Regions from separate parts of the Homo sapiens genome. Here all the other regions are linked to region 1. The links come from fine-mapping of genetic effects on gene expression. A gene starts in region 1. Each other region holds a variant in brackets. All regions are shown on one strand. Distances are from middle to middle. Region 1 holds the start of IDI1 (isopentenyl-diphosphate delta isomerase 1). Region 2 overlaps GTPBP4 (GTP binding protein 4). Region 3 holds the start of IDI2 (isopentenyl-diphosphate delta isomerase 2).

What was found. PIP is the estimated chance that this variant, and not a neighbour inherited with it, causes the effect.
Region 2: its variant is the best candidate, but not a certain one, in a credible set for the expression of IDI1 in whole blood (TOPMed, PIP 0.60).
Region 3: its variant is the best candidate, but not a certain one, in a credible set for the expression of IDI1 in whole blood (INTERVAL, PIP 0.78).

Annotation. Positions count from the first base shown.
Region 1 is chr10:1,045,501-1,053,681 of GRCh38, forward strand. It overlaps IDI1 (isopentenyl-diphosphate delta isomerase 1), which reads right to left and starts at 3,619. Exons shown (of 5, transcript NM_004508.4): 1 at 3,364-3,619. The coding sequence starts at 3,503. RefSeq lists enhancers at 2,866-3,396, 3,397-3,926, 3,618-3,667, 3,927-4,456, 4,128-4,267 and silencers at 3,208-3,297, 3,308-3,527.
Region 2 is chr10:1,010,145-1,018,325 of GRCh38, forward strand. It overlaps GTPBP4 (GTP binding protein 4), which reads left to right. Exons shown (of 17, transcript NM_012341.3): 13 at 276-376; 14 at 2,321-2,518; 15 at 4,103-4,168; 16 at 5,609-5,752; 17 at 6,931-8,181. The coding sequence ends at 7,083. Among named protein-coding and RNA genes, the nearest start is that of IDI2-AS1, 8.4 kb to the right of the region's middle. The variant C/T (reference allele first, on the strand shown) is at 5,056.
Region 3 is chr10:1,019,842-1,028,022 of GRCh38, forward strand. It overlaps IDI2 (isopentenyl-diphosphate delta isomerase 2), which reads right to left and starts at 6,018. Exons shown (of 5, transcript NM_033261.3): 1 at 5,975-6,018; 2 at 4,741-4,903; 3 at 2,842-2,934; 4 at 926-1,056. The coding sequence starts at 4,882. IDI2-AS1 (IDI2 antisense RNA 1) reads left to right here and starts at 2,796. Exons shown (of 5, transcript NR_027709.1): 1 at 2,796-2,942. It overlaps GTPBP4 (GTP binding protein 4), which reads left to right. Exons shown (of 17, transcript NM_012341.3): 17 at 1-91. The variant C/G (reference allele first, on the strand shown) is at 4,929.

The DNA.
Region 1 (8,181 bases):
TTGTTGCCCAGGCTGGAATGCAATGGTGCAATCTCAGCTCACTACAACCCCCACCTCCTGGGTTCAAGTGATTCTCCTGCTTTGACCTCCCAAGTAGCTGGGACTACAGGCGTGCACCACCACGCCAGGCTAATTTTTGTATTTTTAGTAGAGACGAAGTCTTGCCATGCTGGCCATGCTGATCTCGAACTCCTAACCTCAGGAGATCTGCCTGCTTTGGCCTCCCAAAGTGTTGAGATTACAGGAGTGAGCCACCACACGGGGACCACTGAAATACTTTCAACAGAGTTCAAGCATACTGCAGAATGTACACAAAGTGTTTAAACAGCTACTTAATACAAAGTTCTAGACCCACATAGGGTCTGGGTGTGTGTGTGTGTGTGTGTGTGTGTGTGAATGCGTGTGTCAGGAGTCAGTGATGATGGAGATATTGATATCTAATACAAAAAATCTGAAATAAGGTTAATGATTAAAACAAATCAAGAGGGAAAATAATGTGAAAAGGAAGTCAACTTCAGAGTTAGCCTCAATTTTAGAAAGATTTCCAACTTCTATAGGCTAGTTTTATATACAGTCATCCTTTGGTATATATGGGAGTTAGTTCCAGGACCTCCCACAGCTACCAAAATTTGAGGATGCTGAAGTTTCAGATATAAAATGGCATAATATTTGCAGATCACCTGTGTATATCCACTGTGTACATACATGTGTCACATGATGGTGTTTCGGTACACTACAGACTGCATATACTACAGTGGTTCCATAAAATTATAACAGAACTGACATATTCCTATTGCTAATGATGTTGTAGCCATTGTAACATCGGAGCACAACACATCACCTTTTCTATGTTTAGATACACAAATACTTGCTGTTGTGTTACAACTGCCCACATTATTCAGCACAGTCACACACTGTCCAAATTTAGGCCTGAAGCAACAGGAAAAACAGCCTAAGAGCAACTGGCTACACCACACAGCCCAGCTGCTCCACTGTCTGTCTACACCACACAGCCCAGCTGCTCCACTGTCTACACCACACCGCCCAGCTGCTCCACTGTCTACACCACACAGCCCAGCTGCTCCACTGTCTACACCACACAGCCCAGCTGCTCCACTGTCTACACCACACAGCCCAGCTGCTCCACTGTCTACACCACACAGCCCAGCTGCTCCACTGTCTACACCACACAGCCCAGCTGCTCCACTGTCTACACCACACAGCCCAGCTGCTCCACTGTCTACACCACACAGCCCAGCTGCTCCACTGTCTACACCACACAGCCCAGCTGCTCCACTGTCTACACCACACAGCCCAGCTGCTCCACTGTCTACACCACACAGCCCAGCTGCTCCACTGTCTGTCTACACCACACAGCCCAGCTGCTCCACTGTCTACACCACACAGCCCAGCTGCTCCACTGTCTACACCACACAGCCCAGCTGCTCCACTGTCTACACCACACAGCCCAGCTGCTCCACTGTCTACACCACACAGCCCAGCTGCTCCACTGTCTACACCACACAGCCCAGCTGCTCCACTGTCTACACCACACAGCCCAGCTGCTCCACTGTCTACACCACACAGCCCAGCTGCTCCACTGTCTACACCACACAGCCCAGCTGCTCCACTGTCTACACCACACAGCCCAGCTGCTCCACTGTCTACACCACACAGCCCAGCTGCTCCACTGTCTACACCACACAGCCCAGCTGCTCCACTGTCTACACCACACAGCCCAGCTGCTCCACTGTCTACACCACACAGCCCAGCTGCTCCACTGTCTACACCACACAGCCCAGCTGCTCCACTGTCTACACCACACAGCCCAGCTGCTCCACTGTCTACACCACACAGCCCAGCTGCTCCACTGTCTACACCACACAGCCCAGCTGCTCCACTGTCTACACCACACAGCCCAGCTGCTCCACTGTCTACACCACACAGCCCAGCTGCTCCACTGTCTACACCACACAGCCCAGCTGCTCCACTGTCTACTGTCTACACCACACAGCCCAGCTGCTCCACTGTCTACACCACACAGCCCAGCTGCTCCACTGTCTGGTCCTTTGTCTACACCACACAGCCCAGCTGCTCCACTGTCTACACCACACAGCCCAGCTGCTCCACCGTCTGTCTACACCACACAGCCCAGCTGCTCCACTGTCTAGGTCTGCGTCAGCGCACTCTGCTTCCACAATGATGAAAGTACCTAACAATGAACTTCTCCAAAGTATCCCTGTTAAGTGATGCGGGCCGAACGTTAAATTATCATCTGTAGATGATCTCTTATAGTATCTAAAACATGTAAATCCTACATAAATAGTTGTGCTGTATTGTTTACAGAATAAGTCTGTATATGTTCAGTACAGATGAAATTTTTTTCCAAATATTTTATAATGTGCAGTTGGTTAAATCCATGGATATGGACCCCAAGGATACAGTAGGCCAACTGTATATTAGGTGATCACTAAGATAGGTTTCGTTACTACATAATTACTAGACTTTTTGACATGACTTTTTTTCCGGGGGGATGGGGCTGGGTCTTGCTATGTCTGTCGCCCAAGCTGGAGTGCAGTGGCGCGATCTCGGCTCACTGCAGCCTTCGACTCCGCCTCCCAAAGTGCTGGGATTAAAGGCGTGCACCACCGCCCAGCTGTAATGACAATTGCTCTTTCAGGATTTTCAGAATTCAGATTTTAAAGCTAAGCTGCATAATCACAAGATAAAATGAATACGTCTATTTATGCGTTTAAAGAATACCATGTAGTAGACGCGGGAACACATCATCCAACCCAAGAAAAAGGTCTAGTTCCATCTATGCGATGCTCCCCATCTCTTCTCCTGCTCCATTCCCAGGAGAAGCGCCTTGAGTGTGTTGCTGTCACCCTCTTGCACGGACGCAGGTGTATGCACCCGCGTCACACGCGTGGACTCGGCACGGGGAGGCCGGTGTCGTCACGCTCGTGTTTCTGACGATGCTGTCTACGCTTGTTTCTGAATTCTCTAAGGGGAGACTCGCAACTCTTAGTCTCCTGCGACTCGGTTTCCAGTTCCACGAGTTCCTAAACCTCAGGTGACTGTGCGCAGACGACGATCTTTTCCGCTGACAAAGAATGGCAACGTCTCTGACGCCCCGACTCACGCCTCCGCCTTCCACGGGGCGCGGGCGCCCACCACAGCCCGGGAAGGCCCGGCCTCCCTCCAGTTCGGGAGACCAACGCCGCCACCCCCAGCTGTCCAGGCCTCCGCGCCGAGACCTCACGGGTGGCTCAGACCTCGGGCCTCCTCCCCGCCCCGTCCCGCAGCTCCCCGATGCCGCCCTGCCCCTGTCTCCCGAACTCCGCCGCCCGTCCACAGTACCTGATCAGCCTCCGGCCACAGACAACCGCCGGTCCCGGATGGCGCCCGCTTTGAGCACAGTCTGCGGCGCGCACCGCCCACTGGCCCCGCCCCCGGGCCGCGCAGCCAATCGCTCGCGCCAGCGCCAGTCCACGCCACATCGCCCGGCCAATTGGCGCCCGTACGCGCTTGACGACACAATCTCGCCAAGCTTCGCCTGGTGGTGCCACCTCCCTGGCCTGTGACAACGGCAGACGCGCGAAGCACCGGGAACCTGAGCCGTGACCGCGGGCTCTGGCGCCTTTAAGGGGGTCAACACGCCCCACCCCCAGTTCCGCAGAGGCAGCGTCCCGCGACTGGGCGGTGCCCGAGACCACAGACGCCGCCAGCCAATCACGCTTTCGATCCTGCCGTGCGAGCCCGAGGCGCTGCGAACGGTGCCTAACGTCAGACGTCTCGAGGCTCGCGTTCCATGGAGGAAGCCCTCCCAATCCGAAAGCGCCCGGGCGCCAAGCCCTGCAGCCGGAAGCTCGGCGTCCCATGGGAGCGACCTCCGCATGGCTGGACCAATGGAAACGGAGGAAAGGCGGGACGTCACTGCTGACTGGCTGGTTGGGCACTCCCCCCCCTCCCCCCCCCCGAGTTCCGCCGCTGGGACTACAGCGTTTGGCTGCACGGGGAGTTCTCGTATGTCTAGAACGATGGCCTTTCTGCGGTGTCTGCGACCGGGACCAAGGCGGAGCAAAGTCGCCGGGGGTGTGGGGTGTTCCACGCTATGTTGGGAGTGTTCGCTTTCGAGGTACATGACTACGTTCTAAATTTTTTTTTTTTGAGACAGTTTCATTCTTGTTGCCCAGGCTTGAGTGCAATGGTGCAGTCTCCGCTCACAGCAACCTCCGCCGCCCGGGTTCAGGCAATTGTCCCGTCTCAGCCTCCCAAGTAGCTGGAATTACAGGCATGCGCCACCACGCCCGGCTTATTTCGTATTTTTAGTAGAGACGGGTTTCCGCATGTTGGTCAGGCTGGTCTGGAACTCCTGACCTCAAGTGATCCACCTGGCTCAGCTTACCGAAGTGCTGAGATTCCGGGTGTGAGCCACCGCGCCTAGCCCTCTAAACTTTTAAATAATCGTGAAATGTATGCGCAGCTGAAGCGAATTCAGCTATTTCCTCTACCTTTTGTGTGGAATTTAAAATACTGAACTTGTGAGATGAACCTGGTGGGCACCAGTTCTCAAACTTCTTGGTCACAGGACGCTTGCACTCTCTTAAAATGTACTGAGGACACCTAAAAGCTTTTGCTCACTGTTGTTTACTACTGCTATTTACTAACATAGAAATTAAACATATTAAAATATTCACTTAAAAAACACACGACACTAACATAAGTTATATTTTTATTAAAAATCTTTTCCAGACAAAAAACAGACTTTGATTTTGTTTTATGTGTTGACAGATCTCTTTCATGTCTGGCTTCACACAGATAAGAAAATCTGGCCTCCCGCATGCGCAGCAAGTCCTCACTGCTGTCAGTGCGTTCTTGGGAATCAGGACTTTTAAGTGAAACAACGTATAGCAAAACCAATTTTACCAGAGGCTAAAAAATAAGGATTAAGTTCCTAAAGCATACTTCTGGCCAAGGAAAAAAAAAATCACTAAGCTTCTAAAGGCCAAAGTATTCTAATATTAAACATTGAAATAAATGTGAGCTATACATACATTTAAGAAAGATGAATAAAAAGATAATTATTACTTAATTATTCCAGTTCTGGGTCATGTGTAGCTGAAGCCTGTTTCAGTAGCTCAGGGCACAAAGAGGGAACCAGCCCTGGACAGGACGCCATTCCATCACAGGGCCACTCACACACCCACACTCAGACTGGGACAGTGAAGACACACCAGTTCACCTCACGTGCACACCTCTGGGATGTGGCAAGAACTGCAGCACCCAGAGAAAACCTATGCAGGTGTGGCGAGAACACGTAAACACCACAAAGACAGTGCCCCTGGCTGGGAGTCTTTTTCTCATCAATGTTACAAAGAAATGAATGAGCACCTGCTGTATGCAGTTTGAAAATTGAGAAGTATTTTTTAATAGCCTTTTCAAATTATCTTGGTTATTCTTTTTCGATACTACTACCCCAAAACACGAGTGGTGGATTTTCCAATTACTATTTGGAATTTGAAACCACTTCAATGGACATTTTGTACTTGTTACATTAAAACTCATTATTTTTGACTGTACCTCGAATGCCTATTTTCCTGTGCGTGATGTTGAAATGTCATGCATTGGTCATTTGGAAAATACTGATTTACTGAATTAAACAGATCTTCCAAATGCTAAAACATTTCATTATTCAATATCAATCACATTGTTAATATCACTAGTAATCTCATCAGAAAAGTTTTTAAGTATTGGGAAGCTAAAGTATTGTAGCACTGGCTTCCACATAAAGTCACCAAGTTCTTGATGGTTTTAAGTTTGTTTTTTATTTGAATTTTTGCATGAAAATTCCAACATTATTGGCAACAAGTACTGAGAATTATGTTCCTTGAAGTGGCACGAACATATTTATTTTCACGAAAATGTCTGCCAAATATCTAGGTTTGAATACCTCAGTTTATCTGTCAGTTCTTTCCAGTAAAAGCGGTATTTCATGAAAAAAGCAGCTAGTTAGTTCAGCTTACAACTCAAACGTTCCCACAAGTTCTTTTCCTGGAGACAACAATCATAATTCAGCATGTAGCAGAAGTGCTTTATGTGCATTTCCCATTTTGTTATAGAGAATATTAGATGAGTACTGAATGGTCGAGATGATTAAAGTTAATATTTTTTACTGCTAACCATCAGCTGAGCCTTCAATGAGTCATAATCTTTTTGCTGGTGGAGGGTTTTGCCTCAATGTTGATGGCTGTTGATCAAGGTGGTGCTTGAAAGTTGGGGTGGCTGTTGCAGTTTCTTAAAATAAGACAATAATGAAATTTGTCACGTTGATTGACAATTCTTTTCATGAAAGATTTTTTTTAAACCACAGGAAAACTTTTTTTTGAGACAGAGTCTCGTTCTTTCGCCCAGGCTGAAGTGCAGTGGTGCGATCTTGGCTCACTGTAACCTCCACCTCCTGGGTTCAAGCAATTCTCCTACCTCAGCCTCATGAGTAGCTGGCACTATGGGCGTGTGCCACCATGCCCGGCTAATTTTTGTATTATTAGTAGAGCTTGGGTTTCACCATGTTGGCCAGGCTGGTCTTGAACTCCTGACCTTGTGATCTGCCCACCTTGGCCTCTCAAAATGCTGGGATTATAGGCATGAGCCACCGCACCCGGCCAGGAAAACTTCCAAAGTTAGAGTCAATCCTCTCAAACCCTGCTGCTACTTCATAAACTAAGTCTATGGAGTATTCTGAATCCTTTGTTATCATTTCAACAGTGTTCACATCTTCACCAGGATTAGGTTCCATCTCAAGAGACCACTTTCTTTGTTCATCCACAAGAAGCAACTGCTTATCCATTCATGTTTTATTATGCTAGTGCAGTGATTCAGTTACATCTTCGGGCAGCCATAGCCTTACAAAATGTATTTCTTAAATAATGAGACTTGAAAGTCAAAATGACTTCTTGAGCTATGGGCTGCAAAAGGGATGTTGTGTTAGCAGGCATGAAATCAACATGAATCTCCTTGTATATCTCCATCAGAGCTCTTGGGTGAACAGGAGCACTGTAAATCAGCAGTAATATTTTGAAACGAAATCTTTTTTTTTTCCTGAGCAGTAGGTCTCAACAACAGTGGGCTGACAATATTTAGTAAACCACACTGTGTAAGTAGATGTGCTGTCATCTAGGCTTTGTTGTTCTATCTACACAGCAGAGGCAGACTAGAATTAGCATAACGCTTAAGGACTCTAGGATTTTCAGAATGATAAATGAGCACTGGCTTCAACATAAAGTCATCAGCTGCACTAGCCCCCTAGCAAGGGTCAGCCTGTCCTTTGGAGCTCTGAAGCCAGGCTTTGACTTCTCCTCTCTAGTTATGACAGTCCTGGGCGGCATCTTTTCCCAAAATAAGGTTGTTTCAACTCCAATGAAAACCTATTGTTTAGCAAAGCCGTCTTCATCAGTGATCTTAGGTAGATCTCCTAGATGACTTGCTGCTTTATCTTGCACTTGCACATTTTTTTTTTTGAGATGGAGTCTCACTCTGTTACCCAGGAGTGTGGTGGTGTGATCTTGGCTTACAGCAACCTCCAACTCCTGGGTTCAAGTGATCCTCCTGCCTTAGCCTCCTGAGTAGCTGGGACTACAGGCGTGTGCCACCACACCCAGTTAATTTTTGTATTTTTAGTGGAGGCAGGGTTTCACCATGTTGGCCAGGCTGGTCTTGAACTCCTCACCTCAAGGGATCCACTTGCATTGGCCTCCCAAAGTGCTGGAATTACAGGCATAAGCCACCATGCCTGGCCTATCTTGCACTTTTGTATTATAGAGACAGCTTCTTTCCTTCAACCTCATGAACCAACCTCTGATAGCTTCAGATTTTTCTTCTGTAGCTTCCTTACCTCTCTCAGCCTTCAGAAAACTGAAGAGAGTTAGGGCCTTACTCTGGATTAGGCTTTATCAGAATATTGTGGCTGGTTTAATCTATACAGACCACTCAGAGTTTCTCCATATCAGCAATAAAGCTGTTTTATTTTCTTACCATTTGTGTATTCACTGTAGGAGCACTTCAAATTTCCTTCAAGAACTTTTCCTTTGCATTCACGACTTAGCTGTTTCAACATGCCTTCCTCACCATGCTTAATCATTAATCATTTCTAGTTTTGATTTAAAGTAAGAGATGTGC
Region 2 (8,181 bases), 35 kb before region 1:
TGATTTCTGTAGCTTTCTCCACGTGTGGGTGTTGAATGAGGCTGATGTGTTGTTTCCTGTTGTTTTGGGATGGTGGGGTGATTTCTGTAGCTTTCTCCACGTGTGGGTGTTGAATGAGGCTGATGTGTTGATGCTGCTGCATGTGGAATTGCACGTCGTGCTCTCTTCTGCAGTGGAGTCGTTGATTTGCCGTCAGTCACAACTCATTTTGCGCACGTAGTACTTGAAGATATTAAAAACTGCTGTAAACGTAACCACCTTTTTTTTAACTTTAGAGTACTGGGATTTAATGAATTTGTCTGAAAAACATGATAAGATACCAGAAATCTGGGAAGGCCATAATATAGCTGATTATATTGATCCAGCCATCATGAAGGTTTGTGTCACTTTTTAAATTGCGGATTGTTTTCCTTTTTATTATAGTAGTATTGCTGGAAGATAGCAGCATGGCTTCGGCTCAGCTGGGCCTGTCCGCTTCATTCTGCACCCCTCCATCCTGACTCTGCCCCCTGTACCACTTCCCCACCCTGAGACTCTGGTGGAGATACTGGCCCTGGCTGGGCTCTGCTATGCTGGCCTGCCCCCTTCCCGCCGCCTCCACCCACCCACCCCGGACACTCTGGTGGAGATGCTGGGCCCCTTCGTTATCCTGCACCCCTCCATCCTGACTCTGCCTCCTGCACCTCTTCCCTGTCCCGACACTGGTGGAGATGCTGGGCCCCTTCATTCTCCTGCATCCCTCCATCCTGACTCTGCCCCCTACACCACCTTCCCCACCCCGAGACTCTGGTGGAGATGCTGGGCCTCTTCATTCTCCTGCACCCCTCCATCCTGACTGTGCCTCCTGCACCACCTTCCCCCCCACCCTGTGTCTCCGCCAGGCCCTGGATGGGCTCTGCTGTGCTGGGCCCTTCATTCTCCTGCATCCCTCCATCCTGACTGTGCCTCCTGCACCTCTTCCCCCCACCCCGAGACTCTGGTGGAGATGCTGGGCCCCTTCATTCTCCTGCATCCCTCCATCCTGACTGTGCCCCCTGCACCACCTTCCCCACCCTGTATCTCCGCCAGGCCCTTAATGGACTCTGCTGTGCTGGACCCTCTTCCTTGGGGGCTCCGCTGTGTCACATCTTTTTCCTGCCTCAATCCCCTCCCTACTTGCTTTTTCTTAGCATATAAAAGTCCACAAGTTTTACTCATCTTTTTAAAAAACGAAAACATCCTTAGACCGTGTCCTCCATTAGTTGCTATCCTGCCTTCTTCTCTCAGCTGAGCTGTCTGAAACATGCTAACATGCTTATACAATACTTGCTGTCCTGCCTTCTGCTCTCAGCTGAGCTCTCTGGAACATGCTTTTTATACAATACTTGCTGTCCTGCCTTCTTCTCTCAGCTGAGCTCTCTGGAACATTCTTTTTATACAATACTTGCCATCTGCATGTCCCATGTTGCCACTCCTTGGTTCCCACAGGCCCTCCGTCATTGAGTTCACATTTTCAGTCTCGTGGTCTCTGTGCTCCCTGTGCCTCCATAGCAGATTCTGGGATAGCAGATTCTGGGGGCAACAATCTCAATTTCGTTGGTGCTGGAGGAGTGGCCTCAGGGCATCTGCTGTCACCTCTGCTGGGGCCCCAGTCCAGCCCGTGCCCTCACTGTCCCCGCGGTGGCCGCCTGCCTTCCCAGCCTCTTCCCCTCTGCAGTGCGCGCTCTTGGGCGCAAGAAGCCTTGAGACTTCCCTCCTCCGCACAGCTGTGCCCGTGCCATCCCCTTCCACGAGGCCTGGCCCCCGTCTCACCCTCTGCACTGCTGGCCAGCATCTCGTACAGGCACATCTGCCTGCTGGGCTCCTGGCCGGGTTGCCTCATTGGGGGGTGATAAACGTGTGTGTTTTAGTTTTCATTTTTGTCTTATTTGTAGCCAGTGAGGTTGTATTTGGGGTGACATTAGAACGGACACGTGGGATGTGGCACGAAATCAGTGTCTCAGGACTGAGTTCCTTGTGTGTGTCTGCCGGGAGCATTGGAAGTGAAGGAGGCGGTCTCTGCACATTTTTAGCCTTGGAATTTAATTGTTTTAAAAAAAGGAAATGGTGCACAGGGGTTACTGACTTGCTGGCGGCTGGCGTTCACGTGGTCTCCATTTTCTTCACAGAACCCTCCCTGTGAGGTAAATGGCACATAGGCAGGGCCCAGGTGGGTCTGGACCAGGGCAATCGCTCTCCTCTGAGTCAGGGAAACAAAGCTCCCATACACACTCTGCCACACTCACTGACTCAGGGGTTTTCTCATTGTTAATTTTGCTTCATTACAACTCCATTTTTAAAGAAATTGGAAGAATTAGAAAAAGAAGAAGAGCTGAGAACAGCTGCTGGAGAGTATGACAGTGTATCTGAGAGTGAAGACGAAGAGATGCTGGAAATCCGACAGCTGGCAAAGCAAATTCGAGAGAAAAAGAAGTTGAAAATTCTGGAGTCCAAAGAAAAGAATACACAGGGACCCAGGATGCCGCGAACTGCTAAGAAGGCAAGTTTGTGTCTTTCCAAAGCAGTGTGATCTAGTTTTTGAAAATTGGATTCCTGTGTGATCATTGCTAAATAACAACTTTTCAACCCATTTATGGCCATAAGATTGCACATTCTTGTTTTATTGGTGTATGGATTTGCAAGATCGCTCACGTATTGATCTTTTATATTCTTTACTGCGTCCTTTCTTGGTGACTTTCAGCTTCGAGTTTGGCACTACTCTAGATCCAGTCATTTTGCAGTTGTACAGATTAAAACTGTAACTTATGGTTCACAGACGTTCAAGGCTATCAGTGAACATTTTCCTCTTCTTTTTTCTCTCTCTCTTTTTTTTAGGGGGGAGATGGAGTCTTGCTGTGTCTCCCAGGCTGGAGTGCAATGGCGCCATCTTGGCTCACTGCAGCCTCCACCTCGCGGGTTCAAGCAATTCTCCTGCCTCAGCCTCCCGAGTAGCTGGGATTACAGGCACCTGCCACTACGCCTGGCTAACTTTTGTATTTTTAGTGGAGATGGGGTTTCACCATGTTGGCCAGGCTGGTCTCAAACTCCTTACCTCAAGTGATCTGCCTGCCTTGGCCTCCCAAAGTGCTGAGATTACAGGCGTGAGCCACCACGCCCGGCTGGTTTTCTTGTTCTTTAATTTCTGCATTAAATCTGGACTCTTTAGGCCGGGCGCAGTGGCTCACGCCTGTAATCTCAGCACTTTGGGAGGCTGAGGTGGGTGGATCACGAGGTCAGGAGATTGAGACCATCCTGGCTAAAACAGTGAAACCCCGTCTCTACTAAAAATGCAGAAAAATTAGCTGGGCGTGGTGGCGGGCGCCTGTAGTCCCAGCTACTCGGGAGGCTGGGGCAGGAAAATGGTGTGAACCCGGGAGGCAGAGCTTGCAGTGAGCCGAGATTGTGCCAGTGCACTCCAGCCTGGGCAACAGAGCAAGACTCCATCTCAAAAAATAAAAAATTTAAAAAAAAATCTGGACTCTTTAGCAATTTACAGAAACCTGACGCAGTCTACAAAAGGCAATTTATTGGCTCTGTGGCAGGGTGGGACTGGGGGAAGAAAGCCCACATGCAGGGCAGTTAACATGTAACCAGAGAAGTCACTTGACATTCAGGATGCCTCTCAGTGGGTCTTCCTGTTTGAATACACTGTTTTCACATGGTGGCAAGTGACTGGTTATGGCGGACTTGGACATTTTTGTACTTCTCCAGGTGGGGCTCAGCCATCTCTGGGAGGAGAGAGGTTGGCGCACTGCCTTTGTCTGAGGCCACCTCACTAACCTCAGCTTTAGTGTCTCACCTCTGATGGAGACGGTCACTCTCTCCCCCGTGTTGCGGTGAAGAATGGACAGACGTGGAGGATACGCTGATTCTTCCCACAGCAACTGCTCTGTTAATGTTAGTTTTCGTGGGATTTAATTGAGCTATCCAAAAACATGAAAGCGGGGCCCAATAAAAATTACAACTTCTAAAATAAGTATATTATAATTGTTGCAAAATATGTATACATATATATTGCCTTGAAGTTTTTTTCAACATTTCATCAAACTAATTTAAAGCTAATATTTCTTTTTATCCTTCTCAGGTTCAGAGGACAGTTTTGGAGAAGGAGATGCGTAGTCTTGGTGTTGACATGGACGATAAAGACGATGTGAGTGTGGGGGCGGTTCATGTGTTTATGTGGCTGGATACACCTTTTTAATAAAGAAAACTGGCCGGGCGTGGTGGCTCATGCCTGTAATCCCAGCACTTTGGGAGGCCAAGGCGGGCAGATCATGATGTCAGGGGTTCGAGACCAGCCTGGCCAACATGGTGAAACCCAGTCTGTACTAAAAAAAATACAAAAAATTAGCCGGGCGTGGTGGCGTGTGCCTGTAATCCCAGTTACTCAGGATGCTGAGGCAGGAGAATTGCTTGAACTTGGGAGGCAGAGATTGCAGTGAGCTGAGATCGTGCCCCTGTACTCCAGCCTGGGCGACAGAGTGAGACTCCATCTCAAAAAAAAGAAAGAAAGAAACCAGGGTTTTGGAAAGCCGTGGGAACGTGGGAAATTACAGCAAAAAGAAATGAGAGCTTCCAGTTTTTCTCTTTTGAGATTCGCTGGCCCTGGGACTGACTTGAAGTGATGGGTTGAGGATTCCCTGACCCTGGGTCTGGGTTGAAGTGGTGGATTGAGGCTGCACTCCAGCCTGGGCAACAGAGCAAGACTGTGTCTCAAAAAAAAAAAAGCTCCACAGCCAGCACGAGACAGCACCATGACGTGCCCAGGGTGTGGCTGCAGACCCTGTCCTCTAGATGTGCAGTCTGCAGTTTCCGTCTGATGGTTTCTGTCTGATGGTTGTCCCTTTGTGTTCATATCAGTAACCCCCAAAATGGGGCAGTGAGGGAGAGAGCATTGTTTATATCTGAAATATAAATTGTGATGCTATACTATAATAATCACTTTTAAATGAGAGTTCTAAGTTTCTTTAAGTGGAGTTAAAATCAGCTTTCTTACGTAAAGCAGCTTCCGTTAAGTGAATAAGAATATTTGACCAA[C/T]AACTAATGTGAAATTGTTACTAATGTGAACTTGAAATGGTGTCACTAATATGAAAATACTGCGTGTATTTTCAAGACCTTTAGCCCATGTGTTAATGGTTCAGACGCTCCTCTCCTCCCCTCTTGCTGGAGTGACCTCATGCCTGTCGCTGAGCCTGGGTGCGGGGCTGGGGTCCTGAGCTCTGAGCCTGGGAGTGGACCTGGGGTCCTGAGCGCTGAGCCTGGGAGTGGACCTGGGGTCCTGAGCGCTGAGCCTGGGAGTGGGGCTGGGGTCCTGAGCGCTGAGCCTGGGAGTGGGGCTGGGGTCCTGAGCTCTGAGCCTGGGAGCGGGGCTGGGGTCCTGAGCGCTGAGCCTGGGAGCGGGGCTGGGGTCCTGAGCGCTGAGCCTGGGAGCGGGGCTGGGGTCCTGAGCGCTGAGCCTGGGAGTGGACCTGGGGTCCTGAGCGCTGAGCACTGAGCCTGGGAGTGGACCTGGGGTCCTGAGCGCTGAGCACTGAGCCTGGGAGTGGACCTGGGGTCCTGAGCGCTGAGCATTGCTTCCCCTGCTTTGCAGGCCCATTACGCAGTCCAGGCAAGAAGATCCCGGAGCATCACTAGGAAAAGAAAGCGGGAAGACTCTGCTCCCCCGTCCTCTGTGGCCCGGAGTGGGAGTTGCTCTCGAACTCCACGTGACGTTTCTGGTCTTAGGGATGTCAAGGTCAGTCTCTGTGTTGTGTAATGTAATAAAATGACAGTCTCTGTTGTTTATTGCACAGGGTTCAGGGCAAACACCAGCAGTTGCCATTTGCAGGAACTATGGCAGGGGTTGTGTGTACTGCATGCCCTCGTTTTGTGGCATCCTTTAGAGGAGAGCACGGGTCAGGGTGCAGGTGGATGCCCCTGACAGCTGCCCTGGATGGACCCCTCCTTGGCACTTTGCTTTTGCGGAGGGTGGCCAGAGCATGGTCTGACAGCACTAGCAGTCTGGGCTTAGACCCTGCTGTCTGAAGAGGGCCAGGAAGTGGCCACAGCTGAGCACCAGGAGGCCTCAAGTCCAGCAAGCCCCCCATGGGAGGAACAGCAGAGGGAACTCCTGGGTTGATTGGCGGGTGATCCTGCTCATCCTTAGGTTGCAGGATTGTTCCCCCCAGGTGGAGAGCTTGAGTCACATTTAGTTTATTTGTAGCGTCTTTTGGCAAAGACACTTAAGATGGACACAGTCTGTCTTGCTGAAACGTCCTTTTATTAAACACAACAACTTTTAGTTTCAGCGTTGTGGTAATGGAGATGCAGGAGAGTCTGTGTATAAACTGCAGTCTCCTTCATGGAAGCCTGAGCTTCACTCCTCTGTGCCATTGCCATCTTGAAACCTGGCTGTTAATATTGGCATTGCCACTTGTCAGTCAGACCTGAGGAAAACAGGTTCATGGGCCTGAGTCCTTAGCTTGTGTAAGAGGGAGTTAAAACAGATGTGTGCTAACCTTCTAGGTCTAAAGTGTATCTAGTCCTGGGTATAAAGCTTGTCCTGGGTATGATTTTCATCCAGTCTTTATACAAAAATACTCATTGAGTTCCTGCAGATAACTGTGCTGGGCTTAAGAGAAAAGAGATGTAACAGGGATAACTGTGCTGGGCTTAAGAGAAAAGAGATGTAACAGGGGTAACTGTGCTGGGCTTAAGAGAAAAGAGATGTAACAGGGGTAACTGTGCTGGGCTTAAGAGAAAAGAGATGTAACAGGGATAACTGTGCTGGGCTTAAGAGAAAAGAGATGTAACAGGGTCTCTTCGCTGAGCAGACCTGAGCCATTAAACAGATTGTTACCCAGTAGTTGAAATTCAGAATGGAAAATTGGTTTTAAGTAATGAACATACTTTATTTTTTTCTCCTCCTTTTAGATGGTGAAGAAAGCCAAGACTATGATGAAGAATGCTCAGAAGAAGATGAATCGGTTGGGGAAGAAAGGGGAGGCGGATAGACACGTGTTTGATATGAAGCCCAAGCACTTGCTGTCTGGGAAGAGGAAAGCTGGTAAAAAGGACAGGAGATAGTATCCGTTTGGTTGGCGTGGCTTCGCTAGAGTGTTGCTGTTTATTTCCTGGTTTGGCACAGTATGGTTTCATGAAATTGGAGCTCTGTATAAACTGAAAAAGACAAAATAAGTAAAGCACTTGTTGCTTTGCTGAAAACTATGGTTAACCCTATATAGGTGTGGGAAATTTTTGTCACTGCATAATATTACAAATATTTTGAGTAGACAGTGTTTCCACATTTAATGGAGTATCAGTTGCTTCAGATTTTCAGAACTGGGAAGATTTACTGGTTTAACTAGGTTGTTTTTGATGGAGAAAAACCTTATTTTCTTTTGTAAGAGCTGGGAGCAAACACGTTTATGAGTGTGTCGGAATCCCGTGCTTAAAATACGCTCTTAAATTATTTTCTAGTCTTATTTTACAATGTCTCATTGTAGTCTGTCTTCAACTATTTTATCCAAAATAAACCTCCAGAAGAAAGTAGTTTTCATTTACTTAGCTCATGTTTTGGTTTAGTTATAGTCGCTATGGATTTGGCCAAATAAAAAGGCAAACAACATGACATTTCTATTTTGTTTTAAAGCAAAAATACTTTTGGGGGAGTAAAATGTTGCTGGAGGCATTAGGCAATTAAATATGGGCATTCTCCTATTTCTGTGGCCCGTCCCTGAAGTTACATGTTCAGTAAAACACAAAAACACCGCCAATGCCACCTCAAAAGCACCTGCTGGGGAGCGTTGGGGTGAAGAGCTGTGGGGTCGGAGGGACCTGCCCAGGGGTCCGTGTGCTCCTGGAGCTCCAAAGACACACAGGGGTCCAAGAGCCACCACGGATAAGTTATCAAGTCACACAATCAACATTATAGCTGAGGAAAGGACTTTAGTTAATCACACTTCTGGATTACATGTGGCAATTTTAAAAATTTACCAGGGCTGGGCTGGGCGCAGGGGCTCAAGCCTGTAGTTCCAGCACTTTGGGAGGCCGAGGTGGGCAGATCAGGAGGTCAGGAGTTCGAGACCAGCCTGGCCAACATGGTGAAACCCCATCTCTACTAAAAATACAAAAATTAGCCATGCGTGGTGGTGGGCATCTGTAATCCTAGCTGCTCGGGAGGCT
Region 3 (8,181 bases), 26 kb before region 1:
CAGAAATTGGTGCAGTGTTAACAACGCTAATGTAAAACACAGAATTTACAGAAAAATAGAGAAAATAAACACATTTGTTTTCCTCAGAAAATGAACACTTTCTTTGGTAATTGATAATTTCCAAAACCTCGATTTTAGCTAAGTAAATTTTTGTGGACTCAAGTCTGAATGATAAACCGGCTTTGGTTTCTTGGTTCCAGTAAACCTGTCTGTCTTCATTTAAAGAACTAACCGTGTCACACACACATCCTCAACAGAAAACCCCGTAGAAACCGGCTAGCGTTGTCAGGAGAACATCCATCCTCTCTTAAACGTGTTCTTGAGTGGATGAAGGTAACACATGCTCACAGGATCCTGGACATTCTTTCTACACTTGAATTTCTTTCTTTTTTTTTTTTTTGAGATGGAGTCTCGCTCTGTCGCCAGGCTGGAGTGCAGTGGCACAATCCCGGCTCACTGCAACCTCTGACTCCCAAGTAGCTGGGATTACAGGCGTGTGCCACTACGCCCAGCTAATTTTTGTACTTTTAATAGAGACGGGGTTTCACCATGTTGGCCAGGATGGTCTTGATTTCTTGACCTTGTGATCCGCCCGCCTCGGCCTCCCAAAGTGATGGGATTACAGGCGTGAGCCACCACGCCCGGCTTGAATTTCCTCTTCGGTGTGTGGTCGACAGATTCCTGCACAGTCTCAACCCTGCCTGGGACACATAGGGACTCACACTGCCCCATCCACAGCTACATTCACAGCCCCATTCACAGCCCCATTCACAGCTCATTCACAGCCCCATCCACAGCCCCATCCTTCATCCTCATGGTGCTTCATGAGGTCAATGGTGTAGATCCAGCCTGGACTTTGTTCACCGTCTGCCCGCTGCCAACCTGGACTCCCGTGGACACAGCTGAGACTGGATGCTGTGTGTACCTGCTCCCCAGGAATTCCCAGCTCTGCTTGCAGACGCCTCTGGGCTGCCCTCCTCACTCCGATGGCATCCTTTTCTTCCAGTTCTGCTGGGTTGTATAATGGGTGGCTACTACAGGAGTCGGTAAAATACCCTGGAAAAAATGCATGTGGGAACATCCCTCTTTATTCCTGAAAAGTGAATATATTAAATACAAATGCAGATGCTTCATGTAAAACCATCATCCGTCATCAGCAGAAGACAGCCTGGCGGGGGGAGTGGGTTTGTCATGGGCTCTCAGAGCAGCACTCGCCTCCAGCCTCCACGGCTGTGGGCTTGGTGAGGGTCTTCCACATGACCACCTGGCGGGGCTGGCCCTGACCGCTCCTGCGGCCCTTCCTGCAGATGTGCACACACATGTCCCGTGGCACTATCCCAGTATGTCTTAGGAGAGGGACTGGTTCCTACTCAGTTTTGTACCCACAGAGGACCTGAGATGCCATGGGGTGGCGGGAGGAGGTGGTGGGGCTGTGGGCTGGGTGGCTGCACCAGCTGGGCTGAGGAAGCTGGGCTGCACTTTGAGGGTGGTGATCAGTGAGCATGGTTTCACAGGAAGACTGCTGGAATACCTTTGACCAAGTTTCCTTACTGAGAGGTTCTACTTAATTTACCCAAGTAACAGCAATAGCGCTATGACGGGAGGTCACACTCTCCTCAGTAAATCTCTGTTCCCTCTCGTTCCTCAGACCCTCAGTGCTTCCTTCGGTCACTCTGCAAGGAGTTTGGCTGAAGTTGAATCCACTCTTGCAAGTACAAGAGCTGGTACTCCCACCTGCCCCTATGTATCCTGGAGGCGGCTAACACATGATAGGAAATCTTAGCTCCAGGGGCTTTATTTGCAAACTGTTGACTATGTACTACAGTTGACCCTCTTAACTTTGCAGCTCCTGAATTTTTCTGAAACAAACTTTGCATTCAGCTCCATCAAGGAGCCCGTGAGTACAACTTGACCAGCAAGTATGGTGGTGGGTTTGGGAATGGGCAGGATGTACCCACTGCGGCTCCGAGGAAGAACTAAGGGAGGAGAAAACCTCGGCCACAGCTGGCCGTGCTTAGCCATTCGCTTTAATGGCTCAGGCAAGGTCTGGTTTTGAAAATTTGAGGACAGCCTAGGCCAAAACACTTTAAATGACCACAATTGACGTAAATGCTGTTCCCCTCTAAAAAATTTTTTGGCCGGGCCCGGTGGCTCACGCCTATAATCCCAGCACTTTGGAAGGCCAAGACAGGCATATCACGAGGTCAGGAGATCGAGACCATCCTGGCTAACACGGTGAAACCCCGTCTCTACTAAAAATACAAAACGTTACCCGGGTGTGGTGGCGGGCGCCTGTAGTCCCAGCTACTTGGGAGGCTGAGGCAGGACAATGGCGTGAACCCAGGAGGCGGGGCTTGCAGTGAGCCGAGATGGCGCCACTGCACTCCAGCCTGGGTGACTGAGCCAGACTCCATCTCCAAAAAAAAAAAAAAATTTTAAGTTGTAATTTTAAGAAGTACAAGATAATTAAAACTCTAAGACCTGTAAGATAATTTTTATTATTATTACCTAGTTAATTTTATGCTAAATGCTATTTTAATCCCCTAAATCCTTAGGTTGATAAATTCCTCTGCATTTAAGTAACTTGCCGTTGCAAAGAAACAACAAAACAAAAAAACCCAGAAACTCATATAGTTTCTTACTTTTTTAAAAAAGAAAACCCAGCCTACTGAAGAGCTATCAGCATAATTAGCATCTGCCTAAGCTGCCGATTTTCTGCAGGATGAGCTGCCAGCTCACCACAGTGCGGCACTGAGCACCAGAGAGTTCCTGTCCCAGATTCCTCCGGTCAAGTCACATGAGATGCTCTCTTCAGTCCGGGGCTTGGTTGAACGGACTCACCAGGAAACGTGACTTTCGTGTCCGACCTCTGCTGTATCAGGATTCGATTCTTGGTGTTAAACAAGACAACGCTGAAGGCTCGGTGCAGCAGCCCTGCAAAGGTAAGTGCCATTTGTGTGAGTGCATGCCTGGAGTCTGTACGATTGTCCTTCGTGCTTTTTGTCCTCAGTCTGTTTCTCGTAGAAAAGCCTGTGATTGTGGCACCTGGGCAGGGCAAAGGGGACTGCTGGATGCCCAAACACAACGTTTCAGAATCTCAGCGGATTAGAACACTCGGGAAACTAAAAATAGATCTACCAGATGACCCAGAAATCCCACTACCAGGGCAAATATCCAAAATAAAAGAGATCAGTCTATCAGAGAGATATCGCAGCATTCCTGGGTGCTGAGCACCATTTACGACAGCCAAGATATGAGATCAACCTGTGTCCGTGGAGGTTTGAAGGGTTGAAAACATGAGGGTTAGATACACAGTGGCATACCATTCCACCACAAAAGAAGAATGAAATCGGGCCGGGTGCGGTGGCTCACGCCTGTAATCTCAGCACTTTGGGAGGCTGAAGTGGGCGGATCACGAGGTCAGAAGATCGAGACCACCCTGGCTAACATGGTGAAACCCCGTCTCTACTAAAAATACAAAAAAATTAGCTGGGCGTGGTGGCAGGTGCCTGTAGTCCAAGCTACTCGGGAGGCTGAGGCAGGAGAATGGCATGAACCCAGGAGGCAGAGCTGGCAGTGACCTGAGATTGCACCACTGCACTCCAGCCTGGGCAATGGAGCAAGACTCTGTCTCAAAAAAAAAAAAAAAAAGAAGAATGAAATCCTGTCATTTGTAGCAACATGGATGGAACTGGAGGCCATTGTGTTAAGTGGAACAAACCTGGCACAGAAAAACAAGTATCACATGTTCTCACTGCTATGTGGGCTCTAAAGAAGTTGATCTCATGGAGGCAGAAAACACAATGCTAGACACCAGAGGCTGCGAAGGGCAGTGGGGAGGGATGACGAGAGGGTGGTTAATAAGTATAAACATACCGCGATAGAGAAGGAATAATATCAGCTGTTCAATAGCACAGTAGGGTGACTGTAGTTAACAACAGTGTATTATATGTTTCAATGTGGCTAGAACAGAGGATTTGGAATGTTCCCAACACAAAGATATGATGAATGTTTGAGGTGATGGATATCCCAAAATGCCCTATTTGATCATTATGCATGACATGGTGGTATCAAACTATCACATGTACCCCATTAATATGCATAATTATTATGTGTTTATAAAAAAGACACAAAAATGAAAATTAAAAAATAATAAAATGGCTTAAGATGGTCAAAGAAAACCAGAGCTGGACAGGAGTTAAAGCAGGAAAGTCTGACTTTACTGAGAACCATTTCAATAGGGGAAAGAGACCTCCATGGAGAACCAGCCTAACTGCACACAACACCCAAGGAGCAGGCTGGGGCCTATGGATTAAAAGTTACTAAGAGAAAACATCAGTGGGAAGGGGGTTCTGGCTACACCGACCTAACAAGACCTGCTGAAGACAGGCCTGCGTGATCAGACGTCACCTGGGAGGGACGGGGTTGAGGAATTTAATCAGATGCCAAGGTCAGGGTTCTCGCTAAAACAACCTGGTAGAATTCTTGCTGAAACAGGATCTTACGAGGAAGAGCACGGATGCCTAGGAGAAGGTGCAGGAGCCTGACAAGGGCTTGACCAAGCAAAGACGTCATCCAGGTGCTGCTCCCCGAGCCTTCTAAAGACGGCACAGCAAGCACACAGGTGACCCAGTGGTCGCCTCCTAGCCGGAAAGGCCTAGACTCTCTTCTTAGGTTGCCGTCGGGTGGGAAAAATGGGAAAACCCTGGGAACTGGACAGAGAAAATGGGCGGGGGCTACCTTTCTCAATGTTTTCGTTCAGATGGCAATTCCTCTTGGTGTCGGCACCAATAACCTTATCATTCTCATCCACAACAATCAGCATTTCCTCCAAGCGCTGCAACTGACGCCTGTCAACCCAGTCAAGATTTATGTCAGACATAGCTGCTGGCTGTGACCCGACCTGAAATAGATGCACACAAATGCCT[C/G]TTTATGTGAAAGATATTGCCATCTCGTTTTTGCTATGTGTTACCAACCACATTAGGATTTAGCATACACCTTCTCTACAAGTGACAGCAATTGTGTTGAAGCAGCACAGTTCTGAGATATGGAAGGTGAATCATCTGTTTCTAATGTGGTGTCTCTCTGAACGGGAAATCTTGGGTACATACATACTCCTCATGTTTTCCAGGTTTCCTTTAGTGACGAGTTAAAGAATCCCCGCCCCACCACACACACACACACACACACACACACACACACACACACACAAAACACACCGAGGTAAACTGTAGGTAACACTCTTTGTACAAGTTTTTGGGGAAAAGTGCAGCCCTGTGCAAAACCACTGGACCTGGATCAGACGTGGAGAAACACACAGCCTTGTAGGAAAGCTACGTCACCCACAGAAGGGCTATGGTCCTCTTCAGAGCCAAGCAGATTCTTAGGTGAAGATCTTCTCACAAAATGTTTTCAGGGCCAGGAGCGGTGGCTCACGTCTGTAATCCCAGTACTTTGGGAGGCCGAGGTGGGAGGATCACTTGAGGTCAAGAGTTTGAGACCAGCCTGGCCAACATGGTGGAACCCTCTCTCTACTAAAAAATACAAAAATTAGCCAGGCCTGGTGGCACATGCCTGTATTCCCAGCTACTCAGGAGGCTGAGGCAGGAGAATCACTTGAACCTGGGAAGCAGAGGTTGCAGTGAGCCGAGATCGTGCCATTGCTCTCCAGCCTGGGCAGACAGAGTGAGACTCTGTCTCAAAAAAAAAAAAAAAAAATGTTTTCAGGGTCATTTATCTTCATGTAAAACCTTCTCATCATCCTTTTCTACTTTTTAAAAAAATGCATTCACGTCTGTCCATTATCATTACTGTTAATATTTTCAGCAATCTGCTCCTCCTCTTTGCAAAAGGCTGTTTGACTTAATGCATGGACATGAGATACAATAGAAATGCAGAGAAAACAATTACTGAATATGTACAAATTTAGATCATAAAAGAAAGAATTCCCACAAGGTAAAACATATGCACTAACCTCTCTTGGAAGCTGGAGACTCCTGGGTATCAGATGTGGAACTCAATGTGCAAGTTGAACCAGGGCCCTTTTATACCCTGGGGATGTAGAAAGATATCAGCTAAGGCAATCTGATATTTTTGTATTCTTAACAAGAAAACACACCCCGGTCTCTCTCTATCTCTCCATCTCTTTCTCTCTATCTTTCTCCCTCTCAATTGAGGGATAATAGAAAATTGTTTTGACACAATCTCACTTTAAAAAATGCTTTTAGTTTTTAAACCTAGGGTAAGTTATTTTCTACTCTATGGCTTTCTTTTTTTTTTTTTTTTTAAGGTGATGTCTAGCTCTGTTGCCCAGGCCAGAGTGCAGTGGCGTGATCTCGGCTGACTGCAACCTCTGCCTCCCGGGTTCGGGCGATTCTCCTGCCTCAGCATCCCGAGTAGCTGAGATTACAGGCGCCCGCCATCACGCCCAGCTAATTTTTTTGTATTTTTAGTAGAGACGAGGTTTCACCATGTTGGCCAGGCTGGTCTCCATCTCCTGACCTCAGGTGATCCGCCCGCCTCGGCCTCCCAAAGTGCTGGGATTACAGGTGTGAGCCACGGCGCCGTTCGATGGCATCTTTTTAATTCACTTGCTGTATATATCATCCCAGATTTTAAAAAGAAAAAATAAAGGTGGCAAATGGAAGAGAAAAATAATAAACATTGTGACTAAAATTACTGAATAAATTCTTAGGATAGCTGAAAATCGATAAATAAATGCAAGACCTTGGAAACCAATGTGTTTGGAAGAGCTAAAAAACTGTATAATTTCTTGCCTATCATATTCCAAATATCATCTACCAACTAAAGCTCTAGGCCAAATAGTTTTGCAAGTAGGGTCTCTTAAAATATCAAAAAAATGTTTGCCATATCTGTCGGTTCTCTCAGGGAATATGAGGAGAGAAGCACGATGGACGCATGACTCCGCTGACTTTGGCACGGATAATACAGAACAAAAATAACACAGCAGCAGTGATGGGTAATATTCTATAAAAAGATTAATGTGTTTTGCTCTTTTGTCTTTCCATAAGTTCACCTTTATGCATGTAATTTTTAGTTACGTAGAAAATCAAAAGGCTATGCCTGAAATGTTTTCCCTGGAAATCAGTTCTGAGACTCAGGAATAAATGGTCTGTTTGAAACTTGTTTCTTTTGCAGTCAGAAGAGTAAGAATGGGAGAATGATACTCTTTTAAAGATCTAAAAAATAATAAATAAGTCTATGAATTAGGCTTTGAGGAAGAAACTAATATACAATACCGTACCTATTATAATCCAACAACTCTAATAGTAATAATAATAATAGTAAGACAGCCAGACACACATTGTGTCCTTCCTTTGTGCCAGTTTCTATTTTAAGAGTTTAATGTATATTAATTCATTTGGTCCTCACGACAGCTTTCTGAGATAAGCGTTATTTTTTATTATCACAGCATCGATAAGGAACTGAAGCACAGAGAGGTAAATTACCTGCCCAAGGCAATGTGGCTGCAGATGCAGCTGAGCCCCCAGAATCTGTGCAGTTTAACATGTTGGGATCGTCACCACCAAACTAAGCACTGAAAGCTTTAGAGGCAAATGTTATCAAAATTTCAAGGAAGGAATTGTCATTCTCTGTAAAATGTTCTAGGGGATAAAAAAGGAGGGAAACCCTTTGCTAGGTTGATCTGGGTACAAGGTTCTGACACATAAAGCACACAAAAAACATTATAAAGGAAAGGAAGGAAGACATTTTGATTAGGCTATATGCGGAGAATTTTCTTAAGAGAGGTTATGACAACTTTAAGAATGACAGTTGATGACCTATAATGCTGCAGGTAGGAGGTTAAGAATAAACTCTAGGAATAGATGATTACATCTGATTAAGGCAAATTAGAAGCAACAGAAAGGGCTCTAGATATCAGTGAAATATAGAGAAGGACATGGAGGCCAAGACTGGGAAAAGCAGGTAAAAAGAAATGGAAGTGGAAAGAGTTAAAAAGGAGTAGGCCAAGTATTGTAGGTATGAAAGAGAGGGTAAAACAAATACAGCATGTGCTAAAAGGGGTATCCTTGAACAAGAGAGCCATAATAATAAAGAAAAATATCCCAGACACACAAGATGACTTAAACCCACAGATGGAAAGGGCTTGCCATGTTCCAGAAATACTGACACATTATCGTCGACACTGGGGTAAACTTC